Homo sapiens: one gene and its partners. The protein of the gene in region 3 interacts with the protein of the main gene of each other region in a pairwise test. Each region holds a gene or a part of one and is shown on either strand. Other genes may lie near its edges.

Region 1 (7,150 bases), on a different chromosome or scaffold from region 3:
GCAGGAACGCTGCCCTCTGCCAGCAGCAAAATTAGTGGGCTCTGCTGGGACTAAGCGGTGGAGTGGGGCGGGGGCGGGCACCAGCTGCTCCTTCCCCTTCTCCGAGGGCAGCAGACACTGCTATTTACAGAAGGGCAGCTGTGACTGTCACTCAGGCCCAAGGCACTGGAGCCCTGGGCTTCTGTCCCTGCCCTCTGGGTGACCCCGGGTAAGCCCCACCCCACCCGTCACTGGGCCTCGGTTTCCCTTTCTGACAAGGAGTGGAGTCGGGCTTAGGGGTCTAGGATTTCTCCCAGGGAATTAAAGGCAGGGGCCTGGGCAGGAAAAAAGCCCTAGGGAAGTGTAGGGGTGCTGGGACCTGGGGAAAAAGCTCTTCAGAGAGTAGCTGTGTCCCTGGGAAGTCACTTTTCCAGGGCCCATGTGGCTCATGGGCAATGAGCCTTGGGGAGCCCACACCCCTGCACCCCAGCAGACTGAGAGATGGAGAGAGAGCCAAGAAGCGGCGGGTGACTCAGAGAGCACCCAGGGACAGAGTGGGCCCTGATGCGGGAGGTGGGTGTGGGGTCCCCGGTGGTCCCTGGGGGTGCTGTCGGCTGCTGCACCAGCAAAACCTCCCCCTGCCTAAACCTCTCAGTGCCCAAGGACCTCCACTTCCATGTTCCTTTCGTTCTTGGGACCACCAGGGTGGCAGGTATCATTAGATCGGATTTTTTTTTTTTTTTGAGACAGAGTTTCGCTCTTGCTGCCCAGGCTGGAGTGCAATGGCGTGATCTCGGCTTACCACAATCTCTGCCTCCTGGGTTGAAGTGATTCTCCTGCCTCAGCCTCCCAAGTAGCTGTGATTACAGGCATGTAATCCTGTATTTTTATTAGAGACGGGGTTTCTCCATGTTGGTCAGGCTGGTCACGAACCCCTGACCTCAGGTGATCCACCTGCCTCGGCCTCCCAAAGTGCTGGGATTACAGGCATGAGCCACCGCGCTCGGCCCCCAGTTTTTTGTTTTGTTTTGGTTTGGTTTTTTGAGATAGGGTCTCACTCTGTCGCCTAGCTTAGAGGGCAGTGGTGCAGTCTTGGCTCACTGCAACCTCTGCCTCTTGGGTTCAAGCGATTCTCCTGCCTCAGCCTCCCAAGTAGCTTGGACTACAGGTGCGCGCCACCATGTCCTGCCATGTTAGACCAGCTCTGGCACCCGCCAGCTGGGTGACGTTGGGCAGGCCACACTTCCCTCTCTGAGCATCTGTCTGCGCTCTCTTCTGTAATCTGGGGACCATGTGCTCACCTCGCTGGGGTGGGGTACCCAGAGGATGACAGTGTGTCTGTGCAGATGCCCACCAGGCTGGGGTCTGGACACACTGTGGGCTCTCAGAGGGTGGGCACTATTGTTACAGCTATTCCCACTTTCCAAAGCAGGGGGGCCACCTTGGAGAAGACGTGACACTACTGCCAGGGACCTGATGGCCAGCCCCTAAGAGGGGAAGGGTCAGTGCATGCCAGTGAGCAACAATGTTGGTGACAGCCAGAAAGAAGCCTGGCATCCCCCTGGCCAGAAAAGGACCCCCTGGGCAGGGGCTGGGCTGGAGTCTGGCAGCTGAGCTGGGGAAGAGCAGAGCCCCATGGAGTCAGACACAGACCTCCCAGGGAGCCCTCTGCGAATGTGCTCGGTCACTCCTGCCCTCATCCCTGCAGGCCTCGGCTCTGGGAGGTGCCAGGCACCCTTGGGCTGCAGGAGAGGAGGGCAGGTAGCCAGGCTCTTGAACAACATCAAGAACGGTGCCCTGGGCTGGGCACAGTGGCTCATGCTTGTAATCCCAGCACTTTGGGAGGCCAAGGTGGGGGAGGATCTCTTGAGCTCAGGAGTTCCAGACCACTTGAGCAACATAGTCAGATCCCGTCTTTACGAAAAATAAAAAACATTAGCTGGGAGTGGCGGTGTGTGTGGTCCCAGCTACTTGGGATGCTAAGAAAGGACTGCTTGAGCCTGGGAGGTGAAGGCTGCAGTGAGCCATGATTGTACCACTGCATTCCAGCCTGAGTGACGGCCCCTGTCTCAAAACAAAAAGGAAAGAAAGGCTGGACATGGTGGCTCACGACTGTAATCCCAACACTGGGAGGCTGAGGCAAGCAGATCACTTGAGGTAAGGAGTTCAGGACCAGCCTGGCCAACATGGCAAAACCCTGTCTCTCCTTAAAATACAAAAATTAGCCGGGCATCGTGGTGGGTGCCTGTAAATCCCAGCTACCTGGGAGGCTGAGGCAGGAGAATCCCTTGAGCCTGGGAGGCACAGGTTGCAGTGAGCCGAGATCGTACCACTGCACTCCAGCCTGGGTGACAGAGGGACACACACACACGCGCGCGCACACACACACACACACACACACGGACACACACACACACACACACGAAAAGAAAAAATTAGTGCCCCAGAACCCTTTGGTGTAGCCAGAGGACCCTTCCTCGCAAAGGAAGAACCGGGGTTGAAGGGGTGACTTGTTCAAGAGGCATGACAGGCCCACCTCCCAGGGTCCTGGCACCAAATACTTCACCCTGTCAACCAGATTAGACCACGCGGTCCCCAAAGGCAGTCCCTGGCACCCTCAGCTGCTGCCCAGGTGCCTCCTCTGGTCCCCCCAGGCTAGGTGGGATTATGGGGTAACTCACTTTGGGCGGCACGAAGAACTCCAGGCGGAAGCGTTCCTCGGCCACAGCCCTGCGCAGGAGCAGGCGGCACTTCTGCCACTGAGCCGAGCCCCCGGAGCCCGCGGCCGCGTCGTCGGCCACCATGAAGCGCAGCGCCCCCTCGCGTTGAATGTCCACCAGCTCCACCTTGGCAGCCAGCGTCCGCGACAGCCTCAGGCGCCGCGTCCACTTGTCGCGGGGCTCGGCGGTGCGCGGGGCAGCTGCCGCGTCGGGCTCGGGCGAGGCGCGCCGGTGCCACATGTCGCGCACGCCGTCCACCACGCACAGGCTCATGTTGCGCAGCGAGAAGCCCTTGCGAACGCGGGCCTTGGTGGCCGCGTGCGTGGACACGTCCTCCGAGCTCCGCGAGTGGCCGTAGGGCGCCGCCTTGAGTGCAGAGGTGTCCGCGAGCTCCGGCTCCATGGCCTCTGCGCTCACGGCCGCGCCCCGAGTCGTCGGCCCAGCCACCAGCACGCGGCGCACCTCCTCGCCGAAGACGTCCAGGAAGTTGGCGGCGAAGTGGCGGGAGAAGGAGGCGCCGGCGTCGGGCGTGTCGTAAGCTGGGTTGTCCCGCAGGAAACGGCAGAACTTGTGCGCAAAGTCCACGGCGGCCGCCTGCGCATGCAGCTCGCAGAACTGCCGCCAGTCCGGGACCGGGACCGGGACTGGGACCGGGGCGGCTGCGGCGGGGCCAGGGCCGGCACCATTCATGGCTTCCGTCCCATCGCAGCCACCTGCGGCTTCGGGCGAGAAGAGCGCGCAGTGACTTTCAGGCCTGTGATCAATGCGCCCACCTGTCCCCTCCTTCCAGCTCCCCTAGGACTCTCTGGGGCTGTGTGGGTGTGTGTGTACATGCACACGTGTGTGTTGTGGGACTACAGCAGGCAGCCATTCCAAGCAGCATGGATGTGTGTAAAGAGAAAGACAACTGGGGCCGGGCGCGGTGGCCCACGCCTGTAATCCCAGCACTTTGGGAGGCCGAGGTGGGTGGATCACCTGAGGTTGGGAGTTCGAGATCAGCCTGGTCAACATGGTGAAACCCCGTTTCTACTAAAAATACAAAAATTAGCCGGTTAGCCGGGTGTGGTGGTGCACGCTGTAACCCTAGCCATCGAAAGGCTGAGGCAGGAGAACTGCTTGAGCCCAAGAGGCAGAGGTTGCAGTAAAAATACAAAAATTAGCCAGGAGTGGTGGCACACGCCTGTAGTCCTAGCCACTCCGGAGGCTAAGGCAGGAAAATCACTTGAACCCAGGAGGCAGAAGTTGCAGTGAGCCGAGATTGCGCCACTGCACTCCCGCCTGGGCGACAGAGGGAGACTGCAAAAAATAAGAGAAAGACAACTGGGGAGGCAGGAGGTGGTGTCTGCAGAAGGGGCAGTCCTGCATTCATTCTCTCCCCAAATAGTAGTCTCAGGGACCTCAGGGTCATTCCTGGGGCTGGCAGAAGAGGCTGGGATGATGGATGCTTTCAAGTGGGGTCCCCATGAGCCTCTGGTGACCTCACTTCCTCAGTGACCTCTTCTGATGTTCCCCAAAGCCCGGTAGAAAGGAAGAAATCACATGGAATCCTGCTGGCTGGACCTTTGAAATATACCGAGGACTCAGCTCCTTCCTCCAGGTCCAGGCTGCCGTCCTGGGATTCGCATAACTATTTTTCCTGCATGCAGCACTCCAGCAGCTGCTTTATGGTCCCCGGGATCCTGATCTTACTTCCTCTAAAGTCTGTTCTCCTCCCAGGAGCCCAGTCATTTCCAAAACTCAAGACTGCCATGTGCGGTGGCGCATGCCTGTAATCTCAGCACTTTGGGAGGCCGAGGCGGGTGGATCAGGAGGTCAAGAGATTGAGACCATCCTAGCCAACATGATGAAACCCCGTCTCTACTAAAAATACAAAAATTAGCTGGGCATGGTGGCATATGCCTGTAGTCCCAGCTGACTGAGAGGCTGAGGCAGGAGAATCGCTTGAACCCAGGAGGCGGAGGTTGCAGTGAGCCGAGATCCCACTACTGCACTCCAGCCTAGGTGACAGAGCCAGACTCCACCTCAAAAAAAAAAAAAAAAAAAGCCAGGCGCGGTGGCTCATGCCTGTAATCCCAGCACTTTGGGAGGCCGAGGCGGGCGCATCACGAAGTCAGGAGATCGAGACCATCCTGGCTAACACAGTGAAACCCCATCTCTACTAAAAATACAGAAAATTAGCCGGGCGTGGGGGCAGGCACAGGCTGAAGCAGGAGAATGGCGTGAACCTCGGAGGCGGAGCTTGCAGTGAGCCGACATCGCGCCACTGCACTCCAGCCTTGGCGACAGAGCGAGACTCCATCTCAAAAAAAAAAAAAAAAAAAAAAAAGAGAAGAAAGAAAGAAAAAGTAATAACAAAAAAATTGTCTTGGCCGGGCACATTGGCTTACACATTGGCCTGTAATTCCAGCACTTTGGGAGGCCAAGGTGAGCAGATTGCTTGAGCTCAGGAGCTCAAGACTAGCCTAGGCAACATGGCAAAAGCCTGTCTTTACAAAAAATACATAAAATTAGCTGGGCAAGGTGGCACACACCTGTAGTCTCAGCTATTCAGGACGATCACCTGAGCCTGGAAGGTTGAGGCTACAGTGAGTTGTGATGGGGCCACTGTACTCCAGCCTGGGGACAGAGCGAGACCCTGTCCCAAAAAATAAACAAAAAAAGTTGATCTGAATGTGGTGACATGCCTATAGTCCTAGCTACTCAGGAGGATTACCTTAGCCTGGGAGGTTGAGGCTACAGTGAGCTGTGATGGCACCACTGTACTTCAGCCTGGGCAACAGAGCAAGACTCTGTCTCAAAAACAACAACAACAACCAATCTGGATGTGGTGGCATGCCTACAGTCCTAGATACTAAGGAGACTGAAGTGGCAGAATCGCTTGAGCCCAGGATTTGGAGGCTGCAGTGAGCTATGATCGTGACAATGCACTTCACTTGGTGATAGAGACTCTGACTCAAAAACAAAACAAAACAAAAACAAAAACCCAAAACCAAAATACAAGACAGATCACATCCCTCCTCTGCACAAAATCCTGCAGTGGTTCGTATTACAGTCAGAGTAAAAGCCAAAGCCCTATCCACAGCCCCTAGGGTCTGACATAATCTGCCTCTGTTTACCCCTCTGGATATACCTCCTGCCACTCTTCCCTGGCTGGACCTGCCTCCTTGCCCTCCCAGAAGCATAGCAGCCAAATTTCTACCTCAGGACCTTTGCACATGCCTGGAATGCTCTTTCCTCCACATTCCCTCACCTTCTTCAGGTTTCTGCTCAACCAATGGCTTGGCGGATAGCCTTCCCTGACCACTCTTGAGAATGACAAATCCCTCTGATGACAATACTCCCTCTGATGCGTTCATGCACTCTGCCTATTTTCACCATTATCCTTATTGCCGGCTGTCATATCATATATTTAGTTGCTTGGTTGTGTGTCCCCTCCACCCCCTTCCCCCGAGAATGCCAGTTTCACAAGGCAGGGATTTTGCCAGTCCTAGAAGCGGCTGTGTCCTCAGTGCTGGGCATACAGCAGGCGCTTGGGAAACACTGACTGAATGAACAAATGAATGAGTTTGGCACACCAGGCATGTCACAGCTGTCACCGCCTAAGCCCTCACTTGGGGCCTAAGGACAAACAGCTTGTTAGTGACAAGACAGGTCCAGGGTTCTCGCCCAGGTCTGCAGTGACTCCAGGACTTGAGGGGTCTCCTCCTAGTGTGGATCAAATATGGTAGTTCCCTCTCGTTCAAGGGGTATATGTCCCAAGAACCCCAGCAGATGCTTGAAACTGGCTAATACTGAACCTCTGTATACTGCGTGTGTGTGTGTGTGTGTGTGTGTGTGTGTGTGTGTAGAGATGGGATCTCACTCTATTGATGAGGCTGGTCTTGAACTCCTGGGTTCAAGCAATCCTCTGGCCTTGGCCTCCCAAAGTGCTGAAATTACAGGCACGAGCCACTTGCACCTGGCCCGCTACATTTTTTTTGGATCTAATAACCCAGACAACTCCTAAGTGGCGAGCGGGTCGTATCCAGAGTGCGGATATGCCAGACAAAGGGATAATTCACATCCCAGGCAGAACAGCGGGATGGTTTGAGACTTCATCCTGCTACTCAGACTGGCCTGCAATTTACATTTGTATTTGTATGTTTACTTCTGGGATTTTCTATTTAATATTTTCAGACCTCTGTTGACCACGGGTATCTGAAGCCTTGGAAAGCAAAGCTGTGGATAAGAACCAAGCGTTTTTTTGTTTTTTGTTTTTTTTTGAGACAGAGTCTTGCAGTGTCTCCCAGGGTGGAGTGCAGTGGCGAGATCACAGTTTACTGCAGCCTCCAACTCCTGGGCTCAAGCGATCCTCCCGCCTCAGCCTTCCGAGTAGCTCAGACTACAGGCAAGAGCTACCATGCCTGGCTAAAGGGACCAAGTTTTTGTACGGACATTGAAGACCTTGCTTC
Region 2 (7,150 bases), on a different chromosome or scaffold from region 3:
GCTAATATTCACTGAAGATGTGTATTATTTGGCCAGGAGCAGTGGCTCACGCCTGTAATACCAACACTTTGGCAGGCCGAGACAGAAGGATTGCTTAAGCCCAGGAATTCAAGACCAGCCTGGGCAACACAGTGAGACCTCGTCTCTACAAAAAATAAAAAAAATTAGCTGGGCATGGTGACAAACCCATTTAGTCCTAGCTACTGAGGAGACTGGGGCGGGAGGATCACTTGAGTCTGGGAAGTCAAGGCTGCAGTGTGCCATGATTGCACCACGGCACTCCAGCCTCTGTGACAGAGTGAGACCCTGTTTAAAAAAAAAAAAAAAGTGTGTATTTCATTGTTACATAATTTTACATCAAAAGAAAACTGTAAGCAAATATTGAACCCTAGTTAATGACATGCATGCTAATGTATTTAGATCAAAGTGAAACAATGTCTGCAATTTATTGAGGAATGCATCAGAAAAATAAAATGAGTTGATGGGCAGGTACAGTGATAAACAAATGCTAGATATGGGATAAAACAAGTATAGCCAGGCCAGGCAGGGTGGCTCATGAGTGTAATCCCAGCACTTTGGGAGGCCGAGGTGGGCGGATCATCTGAGGTCAGGAGTTCTAGACCAGCCCCACCAACATGGTGAAACCCTATCTCTACTAAATACAAAAACTTAGCCAGGCGTGATGGCACATGCCTGTAATCCCAGCTGCTGGGGAGGCTGAGGCAGGAGAATCGCTTGAACAAAGGAGGCGGAGGTTGCAATGAGCCGAAATCACGCCATTGCACTCCATCCTAGGTGACAGAGTGAGACTCCGTCTCAAAAAAAAAAAAAAAAAAAACAAGTATAGCCAACGTTAGTGGCAGAATCTAGGTGCAAGTATTCACTGCAAAATTCTTTCAACTTTGGTGTACTCAAAAATTTTTTTTTTTTTTTTTTTTTTGAGACAGAGGCTCCCTCTGTCGCCCAGGCTGGAGTGCAATGGCGCAATCTTGGCTCACAGCAACCTCTGCCTCCCGGGTTCAAGCGATTCTCCTGCCTCAGCCTCTGGAGTAGCTGGGATTACAGGCACACACCACCATGCCCTGCTTATTTTTGTATTTTTGTAGAGATAGCATTTCGCCATGTTGGCCAGGCTGGTCTTGAACTTCTGATCTCAGGTGATCTGCCTGCCTTGGCCTTCTAAAGTGCTGGGATTAGAGGCGTGAGCACCGTGCCTGTCCCAAAAATTTTCATCATAAAATGCTGAGGGTGGAAGAATGTGCTGGAAAAAGCAAACACGGAGGCTGCACATACCTCTTTCAAGAAAGACGGACAATACTAAGTGAGAGGGGGAGCCTTAGAAAGGAACTTGAACTCAGCCTGATATTAGAAGTGCACAGGCAGGTGGGCTATGGTTATTGTCTATACCCAGTAGCATGAAAAGTAAAAGCTATGTAAAGGTGATGTATCTAATGGCAGTAATAAATTAGCTAGACATAATCATATCTAGGGCATTTTCAGACATCTGACAGAAAATCAACATGCACCATAACTGACACTTAGACCTGACCAAGGCATCTCATTAAGAACATGTACCCTTGGCCGGGTGCGGTGGCTCACGCCTGTAATCCCAGTACTTTGGGAGGCCGAGGTAGGTGGATCACCTGAGGTTGGGAGTTTGAGACCAGTCTGACCCACATGGAGAAACCCCGTCTCTACTAAAAATACAAAATTAGCCGGACTTGGTGGCGCATGCCTGTAATCCCAGCTACTTGGGAAGGCTGAGGCAGGAGAATCGCTTGAACCTGGGAGGTAGAGGTTGTGGTGAGCCGAGATCGCGCCACTGCACTCCAGCCTGGGCAAGAGCAAAACTGTCTCAAAAAAAAAAAAAAAAAAAAAAAAAAAGAACATGTACCCTTGGCCAGGCACGGTGGCACACAGAGGCACACATTGGTCAGGACTTCGGGAGGACGAGGCGGGTGGATCATGAGGTCAAGAGATCAAGACCATTCTTGCCAACATGGGGAAACCCCATCTCTACCAAAAATAAAAAAATTAGCCGGGCATGGGAACACGCACCTATAGTCCCAGCTACTTGGGAGGCTGAGGCAGAATTGCTTGAACCCAGGAGGCGGAGCCTGCAGTGAGCTGAGGTCATGCAACTGCACTCCAGCCTGGGCAGCAGAGCAAGACTCCACCTCAAAAAAAAAAAAAAAAAAAAATGTACCCCACCACATAAACCAACAAGGGAAACATTTCAGTTTCCACACCTGACCAGAGAGCTCATGGTGACAACACACAGGAAGCAAATTTGATTTTTTGAAAAAAACCTGTATGGAATTTTAAACTATAGAATAGACATAAAGATTTAAATAAAGGCTTCTCTCTTTTTTTTCTCCAAGGTACAAAAACAACATGTGAAATGGTTATCTCCCACTCCTCAACTAGGTTTCCCTTAAGAACAGTGACACCACGGGTTTAGGCTGACCAGTCTTCTCACTTTCAGAAAAGTGAAAAACCTCCTTGGGTTACAAGACACACCATCATCCTAAGCTGCAAACAAAAGCCCAAATTCCATGTTCCTATTATGCTTATTAAAGGGGATCACTTTCATTGCACATACATCTAATGCCTATGGTCAAATGCCCTAATTCTTAACATAATCCAAGCAAAAAATTGTTACTGTTTGGGCACACTTGGGAGAAAAAAAAAGGTCACATTTTTGGCACAGACACAAGGCTAAGGAAAAAAGTTCTTATTTTTACAAAACAAACAAACAAAAAATCCTAATGGTTCCATTGACAAATCCAAATGTAAACTCCCTCATACCTGTAGAATCATTTGAAGAGCAGTTGCTGTTCTTGATTGAAAGATAAAAAAGCCAAGGAGTGCGAAGCGCGCTAACAAAGATCCACTGTTCACAAGGACACAGCGATGCATGCAGAGGACATGGCTGGGCTCACTGCTCCCGCCACAGATCCCAGAGCACAAAGCCTGTCCCAGATGAAATGAATGACATCCCTGACTGTGCCAGCTCCCAAAACACCATACATGTTCTCCCAACCACAAAGAGTGTGCTGTGATTTATGGTTTACATACAGCACAGTGAGGGTTGTCCTGTCACTCTGAGCAGCTCGTCCGTGGCCATGTTGACAGTGTAGACTTGGTCCTCAGAACTCACCCCAGAGACCCTAAGGCAGCCAGCAGATGAGGCCAGAATGACCAGCAACATAAGGCTTGTTACTCTTCTGTCTTGATGAGTTACTACTGCACTTCTATCTACAAACTGAACTCTAGGGTTTGCTTCAAAATCACCTGGTGCATTAGCCTTCTTGGGCTGCCAGGACTAAGTATTATAGACTTGAGTGGCTTCAATAATAGAAACTTATTCTCTTAGAGTCTAGATGCTGAAAGTCCAAGATCAAGGTAAATTTAGCAGGGTGGTTTCTCCTGAGGTCTCTCCTTGGCTTGCAGATGGCTGCCTTCTCCATGAGTCCTCCAATGATCATTCCTCTCTGTGTCCTAATAACTTCCTATAAGGACATCCATCAGATTGGATTAGGGCCCACACAATTACCTCATTTTACCTCAATCACCTCCTTAAAGACTCCATCTTCAGGCCAGGCATGGTGGCTCAAGCCTATAATCCCAGCACTTTGGGAGGCCGAGGTGGGTGGATCACGGAGTCAGGAGATTGAGACCATCCTGGCTAATACGGTGAAACCCCATCTCTACCAAAAATACAAAAAAATTAGCCAGGTGTGGTGGCGGGCACCTGTAGTCCTAGCTACTCAGGAGGCCGAGGCAGGAGAATGGCGGGAACCTGGGAGGCGGAGCTTGCAGCGAGCCAAGATTGCACCACTGCACTCCAGCCTGGGTGACAGAGCAACAAGACTCCGTCTAAAATAAAAACAAATAAAAAAAAAAAGACTCCATCTTCAAATACAGTCACATCCTGAGGTCCTGGAAGTAGGGGCTTCAGCACATGACTCTGAGGGGACACTATTCGGCCCACACAGGCAGGAAGCAGGAATGAGGAGAAGGTGCACATGAAACTGACTGCCCACACATGGGCACAGGGGACTTCGTTACATGATTTTTTTTCTTTACATTTGCTTTTGAAGTTTTCATAAAGGTGTTCCTGATCACTCTTACCAAAGCCTGCTCCCACCATCCATCCCCGGGCTCCACTTCCTGCTCTGCAGCCACAGGCTCACCGTACACATTTCAGTCTCCAGCATCTGTGTCTGACACCATTGGTGCTAATAAACAATAGTTTAATGGACAAGTGAATGCATGATGTGGAACACCTCCAGTGGCTTCAAGTGCATACAGAACCAACACCCAACTTCCCAGCCCAAGGACTTCCCAGGACTGGGGGGTCCTCTCCACCTCATCTCTGCTTCTGAACTGCAGGACACAGTCCCGGTCTCAACCTGGCTGGAAGTGGCTGCTGCCTGCCCCATGTCTCTTCTGACATCCTAGGTCTGCCTTTAGTCTCTAATTTTAGGTGTAAGTGACCTACTTTCCAAAGTGCAATGTCCCTAACCCTCTTCTCAGTGGGCTAAGCACATAATAGGCAAGGCATGACCAAGTTATCTCACTAAAAACTTGTATCGCCACCACGTAAACCAACAATAGAGGGTGATTTAAATGCTCAATAGTTAGGTTTATAGGACTTAATCATGACCATTTACTTACACTGCAAAGTGACAACAAGGAGGGGGCACTGCTGACGGAAATGAAAAAACTGGAAGATCAAGAGTAAGCGCCCCAGTGGGGCAGACTGCAGACGCCCTTCTCGTCTGCAGGGAAGCCCTTCACTGCAATAATATTGCTAAGAGAAACGTTTTGCTTTACACTATCTTCCTCTGAAAGGATGCTCAGAGCAGCCCTGGAAGGTTCTGATGTGCTTTCTGAATCTAAATTATGACAGAATCTGACAATATGTTGAAAATTAACAAATACATACTATGTAAATGGTAACTCTTCAAGACAGAAAAGTAACCAGCCTTATGTTGCCGATCATTCTGGCCTCACCTACTGGCTGCCTTAGGTTCTCTGCTGAGCACCTCCTGCCTGGTTCTCCAGCCTCCTGACCCTGAGTTACCAAGTTGCCATCCAAGAATCACTGCAATAGCTACCCAAGAGGAAAAATAAAACAAAATATAGCAGCCCCAATTCACCTTCTGAACCCAAGTATGGCTTGTGACAGTTATAGAATCGGTTTAGTGGGTCATGACCATGAGCCTTTTTTTTTTTTTTGAGACGGAGTCTTACTCTTGTCGCCCAGGCTGGAGCGCAATGGCACATTCTCAGCTCACTGCAACCTCCATCTCCCGAGTTCAAGCAATTCTCCTGCCTCAGCCTCACAAGTAGCTAGGATTACAGGCCCCACCACCACGCTCAGCTAATTTTTGTATTTTTAGTAGAGATGGGGTTTCACCATGGCTGGTCTCAGACTCCTGACAGGTGATCCACCCACCTCAGCCTCCCAAAGTGCTGGGATTACCAGTGTGAGCCACCGCACCTGGCCAACCACCAGTTGTAATAGAAAGAAAAAAAAATAGAATTAAAAAATCAGAGCGTTTAAGTGTGGTTCCTTTAAACTTTCACTTCGGTTATACAGACACACACATTTATGTCTGCATCAGGTCAGCATGGAGAAGGTATGGCTTCCTGGTGCCTGCAGTGACCAAATTTTAAAAGGTACTGGTCCAATCCAAGCTTTCAGTTCCTCACAGACACTGGTCCAGCAGTGACTACAGCAGCTGATAGTTCAGGGCCTGTAACCTAGAGGATCTTTTCCCCTCCACTTTTTATTATGGAAATTCTCAAAAATACATAAAAGTAGACAGAACAATATATAACCATTACCAAAGCATTCAGCTATCCCCTTTGTTTCTTCTATTTTGAGTAAAGCAAATCCCAGAAATCATATTATTTCACCTACAAATATCTCAGAATACATGCCTATCAGATCAGAACTTAATTATCATACCCAACAAAATTAATAATTCCTTATTTATTATTTAATATCTAGTCCTACATTTCTAGGGAACTTTATAACCTTTTTTTTCTCTTTTTCTTCTTGAGACAGGGTCTTGCTGTCACTCAGGTGGTGGCACAATCACACTCACTGCAGCCTCGACCTCCAGGGCTCAAGCGATCTTCCCTTCTCAGCATCCCAAGTAGCTGGAACTACAGGCATGCACCACCATGCTCAGCTAATTTTCTTATTTTTTGTAGAGATAGGGTCTCACTACATTGTCCAGGCTGATCTCAAACTCCTAGGCTCAAGTGATCCTCCCACCTCAGTCTCCCAAAGTGCTGGGATTACAGGCGTAGCCACTACACTCAACCTATAACCTTTTTCTACCTTAAACAATGCAAATAAACTAGATGAATGTAAAAATATTTAACTTTGATCAGTGTGAAATCATAGCCACCTGGTGGGGCAACCGAAGACCAGAGGCAGCAGAGAAGCTGAGACCCACAAGGTTAAGGCCACAAGATGGTTTTTTTTTTTTTTTGGAGATGGAGTCTTGCCCTGTTGCCCAGGCTGGAGTACAGTGGCATGATCTCAGCTCACTGCAACCTCCACCTCCCGGGTTCAAGAGATTCTCCTGCCTCAGCCTCCTAACTGGGATTATAGGCACATGCCACCACGCCCAGCTAATTTTGTATTTTTAGTAGAGACGGGGTTTCACCATGCTGGCCAGGCTGGTCTCAAACTCCTGGTGTCAAGTGATCCGCCTGCTTCGGCCTCCCAAAGTGTTAGGATTACCTACACCCAACCCTGACAAGACAGCTTTTTTGGGCTGTGATCTGAGTATAAAAATCCACACAACCCAACTTAAGTGCATCCAAGTTTCTAATAAAAAGGAATTACTGTCAGGTGCGGTGGCTCAGCCACCCAGCACCTTGGGAGGCCAAGGTGGGTGGATCACCTGAGATCCGGAGTTTGAGACTAGCCTGACCAACATGGAGAAACCCCGTCTCTACTAAAAATACAAAAATTAGCTGGGCATGATGGCACACGCCTGTAATCCCAGCTACTCGGGAGGCTGAGGCAAGAGAATCACCTGAACCCGGGAGGCGGAGGTTGCAGTGAGCTGAGATCGTGCCATTGCACTCCAGCCTGGGCAACAAGAGCGAAACTCTATCTCAA
Region 3 (7,113 bases):
ACAATTATTGAAAAATCAACAATAATTGCAAAAAGCCATCTGAGAAACATAACATTTTAATAGATGAAATAAATACTCCAGTACATGCAAGGTAAAAACTTGACGTTGGGGGAAAAAAAAATCACTCTATAGTGTAAATTAAAAAAACACACGCTCACAGTAGCTTCCCCCCATTTGCAAATCACATGGCAAATTCATACTCTTTCCACACCAAGTATACTCCTAATTCAACACGATTGCTTAAAAAAAAAAAAGACATACAAAAAAAGGTAGCTACATCCATGTCTAAGGAGTGAAAACTGAGGTAACCTTTCTTTTAATTAAAAACACAAAAAACAAAAATGAAATGAACCCATGACCTCCTTCCTGCCCAATAATGAAATTTAGTTGAGAAATTCCGGAAGACGGGCTGGGGTAGGGGGTGGGAGTGATAACACAACCAGCAGATGACATATCTTCCAGTCCCTACTGCATGGGGGCTGGTGGAGAGACACCTGGGCCCTCCAAGTGCGTGTGCAGGTTGCGTGCATGGCCCTGCCTTGTGGAAGATTCCTCTCGAGCATTTAACGTTGGGGAGGGTAGGGGGTTTCACCTATGATTTCTTTGGTATAAATGGAGAGGGGCAGAGAGTAAGTATCTTCCTTTAGTCTGGGGGTGGAAGAAGGGGTATGGGGGTGGGGTGCTAATTCACAGAATTGGAATTCACTGGCGGTAAAGTCCTGGGCGAAGACCTCTCCCTTAAAGCCTGAGATAGCAGGGTGCAGCCTTCAGACACGGCGCAGGCCGAGTTCCTCAGCCTCTCCCTGTGGTCCGACATCTTGGCGCCCCCGTCGGGGTGCTGCGCCAGATCCCTGAGGCACTGGGTCAGGAGCACGCAGGCCGACACCACGCTCATGGCGCCGCCCAGGATGGCGGTCTGCACCGCCTTGCCCTCGGCGCTCACAGCTGCCGCGCGACCCAGGAACTGCGGCTCGGTGGCGAAGCCTACCAGGGCGCTCACTGCCTGCACCAGGGGCCCGCTGAAGAGCGCACAGCGGCTGCGCGCCAGCTCACTGGGCGCCACCTTCACCTCGCGCACGCAGGCCAGCAGCGCCGACGCGCTGGTGCTCATGCACTTGACGCCCAGCTTGAACTGCTCCCGCGAAAAGCGGTCCCGTGACTTGTCACTGGCCAGGGCGCACGCGTCCGTCAGGAACTTGAGGTTGCGCGACAGGCCCTGCGACACCTCCAGCAGCAGCTGCGGCGTCATGTCGGCCAGCGGCGTGGCGCGCAGCACGGCGCAACCCTGCTCCACCTCGTGGCGGCATCGCGTCACGCGGTAGCGGTCCACCAGGCCCGGCTGCGCGGGCTGGGCGCCCGGCGTGGCCACAGCGGCCAGATAGGCCGCGTGGGCCGAGCACTCGGTCAGCGACACCACCAGGTCGCCCAGCTCCACCAGGCTGTCCCCCGCCTCCCCGAAGCGGCCCATGTTGAGCTGGCTCTGCACGTCGTGGGTGAGGATGGAGAGCCCCTTGGTGCGCGCGATGATGGTGTCCCGGCACTGCTCGAAGGACTCGGCGCCGGCACCAGAGGAGGCGGGGCCCTCGAAGAGCACGGGCCGCGCCTCGCTCGACAGCAGCAGCAGGTCAGCCACCAGCTGCATCTTGCCCTTGCAGTGGTCGCAGACGGATACCAGCCTCTTCCGCGGCTGCGAGCTGGCCCCGCCGATGGCGCTCGCAGGAGCCGGAGAAGCCGCCTCGCCAGTGGGCTTCCCGGCGCTGCCGCTAGCCATCGCGCCCGGGGGGCACTGGCATGCCGCTGGGGAGCCCGCTACCACCGCCGCTGCCGCGGCCACTGCCGCCGCCCCGGCGGCCGTCGCGACTCAGCTGGCCAAGGCCGCGGTGCCTTCCCCGCACCATCATGCCATCCACCGCCGCGGGCAGAGGGCACTGGGCTGCGGCGGCGGGAGCCCGGGCGGCGCGGGGTGGGCCCGAGGGCGAGAGAACGCGGAAGGCTCTTCGGGGCAAGGGGAGGGGCTGCAGCTTTCGGCCTCCTAGAGGGCTTGCAGGAACCATGAACCGGGGCAGAGCAAACTCACTGTCCGCGCTCCTCGTCGCCGGGCTGCCAGGAAAGTCCCTTCTGCTGGTTCGCCGCCGCCGCCGCCTTCTTGGGCATGGCCTGGCGCGGCCCTCGGAGCGGGGAGGGCGGGACGGGGAAGCTGGGAGTTGTCCTTCCTTCCTTCCTTTCTTTGAAATCAAAATCCTTTCCTCGGGGAGGAGCGCGGGAGGCAGCTCAGGCGGGCTGTGCTGTCAGCCGCCGCGCTCGAGGCCACCTCGGGCTCGGCGGCGCACGTGGGCTTCAGGCGCCGTGACCCCACCAGGCGGCACTTCCCCGCGACGGCGGCCGGGGCTGGCTCTCTGGGACGCGCGGCCGCCCCGGGCGCATCTCCTGCCTCCAGCTCTTGGGAAGCGGCGCCGGCGGCAGCGGGGCAGAGGGTGTGGCCGGCACTGTCGCGGCCGCGCCGAGTCAGAGTCGGGCGGGAGCCTGCACTGATTGCGCACAGCGGCCGCCCGGATCGCGCTCAAGCTCTCGCCCGCCCGCCACACGCCCGGGCGTGCCGAGCACCACGGCGGCCCCTTCCCGCCTCGCCGGTTCACAGAGCGCGGCCCGGCGCCGCGGCGGCACGCCCTCCCAGACCGCGCGCCCGGCGGCCCGGCGCTGGCTGTCTACGCAAGTCCATCCCTGTCGCCTCGTCTGGGGCCCGCAGCAGCTGAGCTCTCCCGAGGCCCCGGGCCCCGCGCATCGGACGCCCCTGCACGAGTCTCCCTGCCACCGGGCCAACTCAGAAGGTCCCCGCGGCGCTGCGGCAACCGGCCCGGGCCCCGGCTCCTGCCATTTTTGTCAACCGCCAACTTCCGAGCGAGCGGGCAGAAACTGAAAGGAAGGGCGGGGGCCGAAAGGCAGAGGGGAAAACACCCGCTTCCTCTCCGCGCGCGGCTTCACCTCGGAGCGCGGCCGTGGCTGCGCCGCCGCCCGCAGGGGCTGCCGGAGGCTTTTCCTGTTCCCGTCCGCGCCTCGCCCCCGGGCTCGCCGCCGCCGCCGCCTCGGCCGTAACCTCCCTGGAGCCTATAGAAATCTTTTGTGTGGCGTCACCGCCTTTCGTTTAAATCCCGCTTCCTCCTCTCGCCCTTCCTCCCGCCCCCTCCGCCGCTCCCGGATGCTTGCGCGATGCGCTGCTCCTCCCCCGGGAAGCTGGGTGGCTGCGGGGGACGCCGCCGCCCAACGCGGACGCTGCCGGCGTGGGGCCGGTGGTCCTGAACTCCCCCGTGGTCCTGGGCCGAGAGACTGGGGGAGCGGACAGGGGAAGGCCTGCTCCGGCCCGGGGGCTCTGCGCACACCCATGGGAGACCGGGGCGCAGCCGCCCGCGGGCCTTACGTAAGCTCTTAGCCGGACCAGGGGGCTCCACGCTTCCTCCCCGCCAAGAGAGCAAGTCTAAAAGGTGACCTGGCTTCTGGGCTGAAGGGAGGAGGACACTGGATTTCGGCCCCTGGTGATTTGCTGGGGCCGGTGGGTCGTCTCGGTCTGCGCGACTTCGCCCGGTTTTCCAACGCCCCCTGCCCTTTGTTGTGTTTGATCCACTTCCACGATGGGTTTCCGACCAGCAGTGCAGTGTAACGAAAAGAGGAAAAGAGCACTGGATGGGGAGTCCGAAGAGTGGTGCTAGATGCCTGCCCGTTCCTCCCTTGAAATACGCCTTATGCAGTGAGAGCGCGGGTTCTGAAGCAGATTTCCTAGGATCAGCCTTTCTCAAGCCATTTATGAGTTCCATGACATTGTTCAAGTTCTCTTTCCAAGTATCCGTCTTCTCTTCTAGAAATTAGAGATTGTGCACAGGCTGCTTGAGTACTTGGTTCCTAAACAGTAGCTGTTAGAATTATTATGAGCCCTGATCAGCGCACTTTGCCCTCTCATAACGTCTATTTATTCGTCTGTATAATGGAATAATAGTGGCTGCTGTTAAATGAATTAAATACGACGGCGTTTGGAGGGAAACATTACTACTCCAGTTTTACAGATAAGGAAACTGATGATCAGGTGCTTGAAGTGACTTCCGAAGATCAGGAAGACAGCATATGGCAGGGACAGGAACCCACGCCTACGCCCCAGCCTCTTTTTACCGAACCTTGTTCTTCAGGAAGTGGTTAAAACACCTGGGCTACTCCCAGCAAAACGCCAGTCACGCAGTCCTGAAACAGGTCCTCTAAGGTGCCCAGCCCAACACAGGCTGGGCGTGCTGAGCCAACAGAATGTTTGTTCCTCTGTCCCTTCCTAGAACCCCAAGTCACCTTTCTCCAGCCAGTTAAAAACGTTACTTTTAACTAGGATGACGTTTCAATTTATCGGCCATATCCAAGCATTTCTGAGAATGAACTGTGAGACATGCTATTAATAAATTAACCATGAACAGCAGGTTCAAACCTGGATGGATAGTCATCCTACTTATAACTGAAAGTATCCTTAAATATCTTTAGAATCCGGATGAGCCCACTTAGTTTGCAAACCGAGGTCAATAAAACTGACTTGAAATAGGAAGTAATTATGTAGGGTTAATTCCTTTTTTTCTTCTACAAGAGAAAAAAAAAACAGCTGGATAAGTCAAGGTTTTTCCATGGTGACCCAGGGATTGCACCTTAGTCCTTCTTAAGCTCCAAAAACTTATGAGAGGGGGCCGAAAGCGATGGCTCACACCTGTAATCCCAGCACTTTGGGAGGCCAAGGCAGGCGCATCACGAGGTCAGGAGATCAAGACCATCCTGGCTAACACAGTGAAACCCCGTCTCTACTAAAAATGCAAAAAATTAGCCGGGCATGGTGGCGGGCGCCTGTAGTCCCAGCTACTCGGGAGGCTGAGGCAGGAGAATGGCATGAACCCGGGAGGCGGAGCTTGCAGTGAGCGGAGATCGCGCCACTGCACTGCAGCCTGGGCGACAGAGGGAGACTCCGTCTCAAAAAAAAATAAATAAATAAATAAATAAAACTTATGAGAGGGAAGTCAGACTGTTCTGTGCCTAGTTTATTCTTGAGGCTGCTCTAAGATCAGATTTTTTTTCCAAAGCCACGTAGTGCCCCTGGGGGTCCCATTTTCCCTTTCTTCTACATATGCAGTCTGTTTTGTTGTTGATGGAAACCCACCCCGACAATGAGTTGTGTTACACACAGACTGTCCACTCTATTCAGTGAGGTTTGGTTTCATTTTTAAAACTGATAGCATTGTTTTCTCGGCCTTCCCTGCTTCATTTTTCAGATAGGGAAGCTCCTAAACTGATCCTCCCAGGCACTGCCTCCACCTTTCTTTAGGTTCACCTTTACTTTGTCCGATTGTTCAATCACTCCACAATCACTGGGCACCAGTCTTGTGCTAGGCACCAAAGTTACATAATTTGTAATATGAGGCCCCCACTCTTTAGAGTCCAGGGATAGGAGTAGATTCACAAGAAACAGCCACAATTTCACTATTGGCACAGTGAGAGCACAGAGTAAAAAACCTATAGCAGAGATAATCAGGCTTCACAGATACAATATTTGTAGGTAGGCAGGGCCATGTGGTTCTGTCTGACCAATGAAATGTAAGGGGAAGCTATGCAGGTTACTTCTAGGCTGAGACAATGAAAAGCCAATCTGTAATTCTCCACTCTCTTGCCCTCCTATAACTACCACGGAGACTGCATTCTAGTTGGTGGAGCCTCTGTAAGCTTAGGTGACCATGTGGAGCAGACCCTCTTGATCTGTAGTGGACATGCAATGTGAACACAAAGTAAATTATTGGTGTGTTAAGTCACAGAGATTTGAGGGTTGTCTGTTGCTGTTGCATATTTTTAGTCTAATTAGAGGATGGCTTGTTGGTGTCTGCCCTTAGAGTCACTCAAGCAATGGCTTTTTCTTTAGAAAACTCCACCTATTACCCCTTCTAACCCTCTCAAAATTAAAATAAATATAAATCAAAAGTATTTGCTGTGATCTGACCCCCAAATTCATATGTTAAAACTTAATCACCAGTGTCACAGTATTACAAGGTGAGCCTTTGGGAGATGGTTAAGTCATGAGGTGGAGCCCTCTTGAATGGGGTTAGTGGCCTTATAAAAGAGGTGTGAGAGAGTTGTTCACCTCTTTTGCCCTTTCATCATGGGAGGATGCAGCAACATAGAGGACGCATCATCTATGAGGAATGGGCCCCTGCTGGGGCCTTGATCTTCTACTTCCCAGCTCTAGAGCTGTGAGCAATAAATTTCTATTAGTTATAAATTACCCAGTCTAAGGTATTTTGTTATAGCAGCTCAAATGGACTAAGTATTTTTTTTTTTAATGGATGTTGAGTGAGAGAAGAAAGCGGAAAATGTGTGGACTGAGGATTGGCTGAGGGAAGGTAAATGGAGTGGATGAGAGGGAGCTGGTAAATGGCCTGGCCCCTAGAGAATGCATTCTCAATACTGGCTCAAGGCCTACACTGAAATAGGCATCTGATGAAAAGTAAGTGAACAAGTTGCAAAGAGAGAACTGAGGATTTGGGCAGGACAAGAGGAACTGACAGGTTGAGACAGGCAGGATTGGGGAAACATCTTTTACCTCGTCTCTTGCCTGTTTTAGAAGGTGCATCCACCACTTGGTATAAGAGAACATTATGGGCATTCTGTTTTGTTTTTATGTTTTAAATCGTGGTAAAATAGCATAATATCATCTTACCCATTGTTAAGTACATTATCGTGCAACCATCACCATCCTCTATCTCCAGAAATGTTTAATCTTGCCCAACTGAAACTCCATACCCATTAAGTAACTGCTCCCCACTCCCCCTTCCTCCAGTCCCTGGCAACCACCATTCTACTTTCTCTATGAATTTGACTACCCTAGGTACCTCATGTTAGTGGAACCATACAATATTTGTTATTTTGTGCCTGGCTTATTTCACTTAACATAATATCTTTTTTTTTTTTTTTTTTTTTTTTGAGACGAGGTCCGGCTCTGTCTCCCAGGCTAGAGCACAGTGGCGCGATCTCGGCTCACTGCAAGCTCCGCCTCTCGGGTTCATGCCATTCTCCTGCCTCAGCCTCCCGAGTAGCTGGGACTGCAGGCAC

Evidence for each region.
Region 1: the proteins of TLNRD1 (region 3) and SH2B2 interact in binary tests that used the Homo sapiens proteins (3 or more experiments, as listed by UniProt).
Region 2: the proteins of TLNRD1 (region 3) and CCM2 interact in binary tests that used the Homo sapiens proteins (3 or more experiments, as listed by UniProt).

What each region holds. Positions count from the first base shown.
Region 1 is NC_000007.14:102,296,790-102,303,939, reverse strand, and holds part of SH2B2 (SH2B adapter protein 2), read right to left. Parts: intron 3,419-7,150; coding exon of another isoform or gene 3,390-3,418; coding exon 2,661-3,389; intron 1-2,660. UniProt on the Homo sapiens protein: Adapter protein for several members of the tyrosine kinase receptor family. Involved in multiple signaling pathways. May be involved in coupling from immunoreceptor to Ras signaling. Acts as a negative regulator of cytokine signaling in collaboration with CBL.
Region 2 is NC_000007.14:45,003,091-45,010,240, reverse strand, and holds part of CCM2 (cerebral cavernous malformations 2 protein), read right to left. Parts: intron 1-7,150. UniProt on the Homo sapiens protein: Component of the CCM signaling pathway which is a crucial regulator of heart and vessel formation and integrity. May act through the stabilization of endothelial cell junctions. May function as a scaffold protein for MAP2K3-MAP3K3 signaling.
Region 3 is NC_000015.10:80,996,930-81,004,042, reverse strand, and holds the start of TLNRD1 (talin rod domain-containing protein 1), read right to left. Parts: upstream 3,121-7,113; 5' UTR 1,902-3,120; coding exon of another isoform or gene 1,772-1,901; coding exon 683-1,771; 3' UTR 1-682. Other genes in the region: umcharacterized LOC128071545, read right to left, coding at 1,764-1,901. UniProt on the Homo sapiens protein: Actin-binding protein which may have an oncogenic function and regulates cell proliferation, migration and invasion in cancer cells.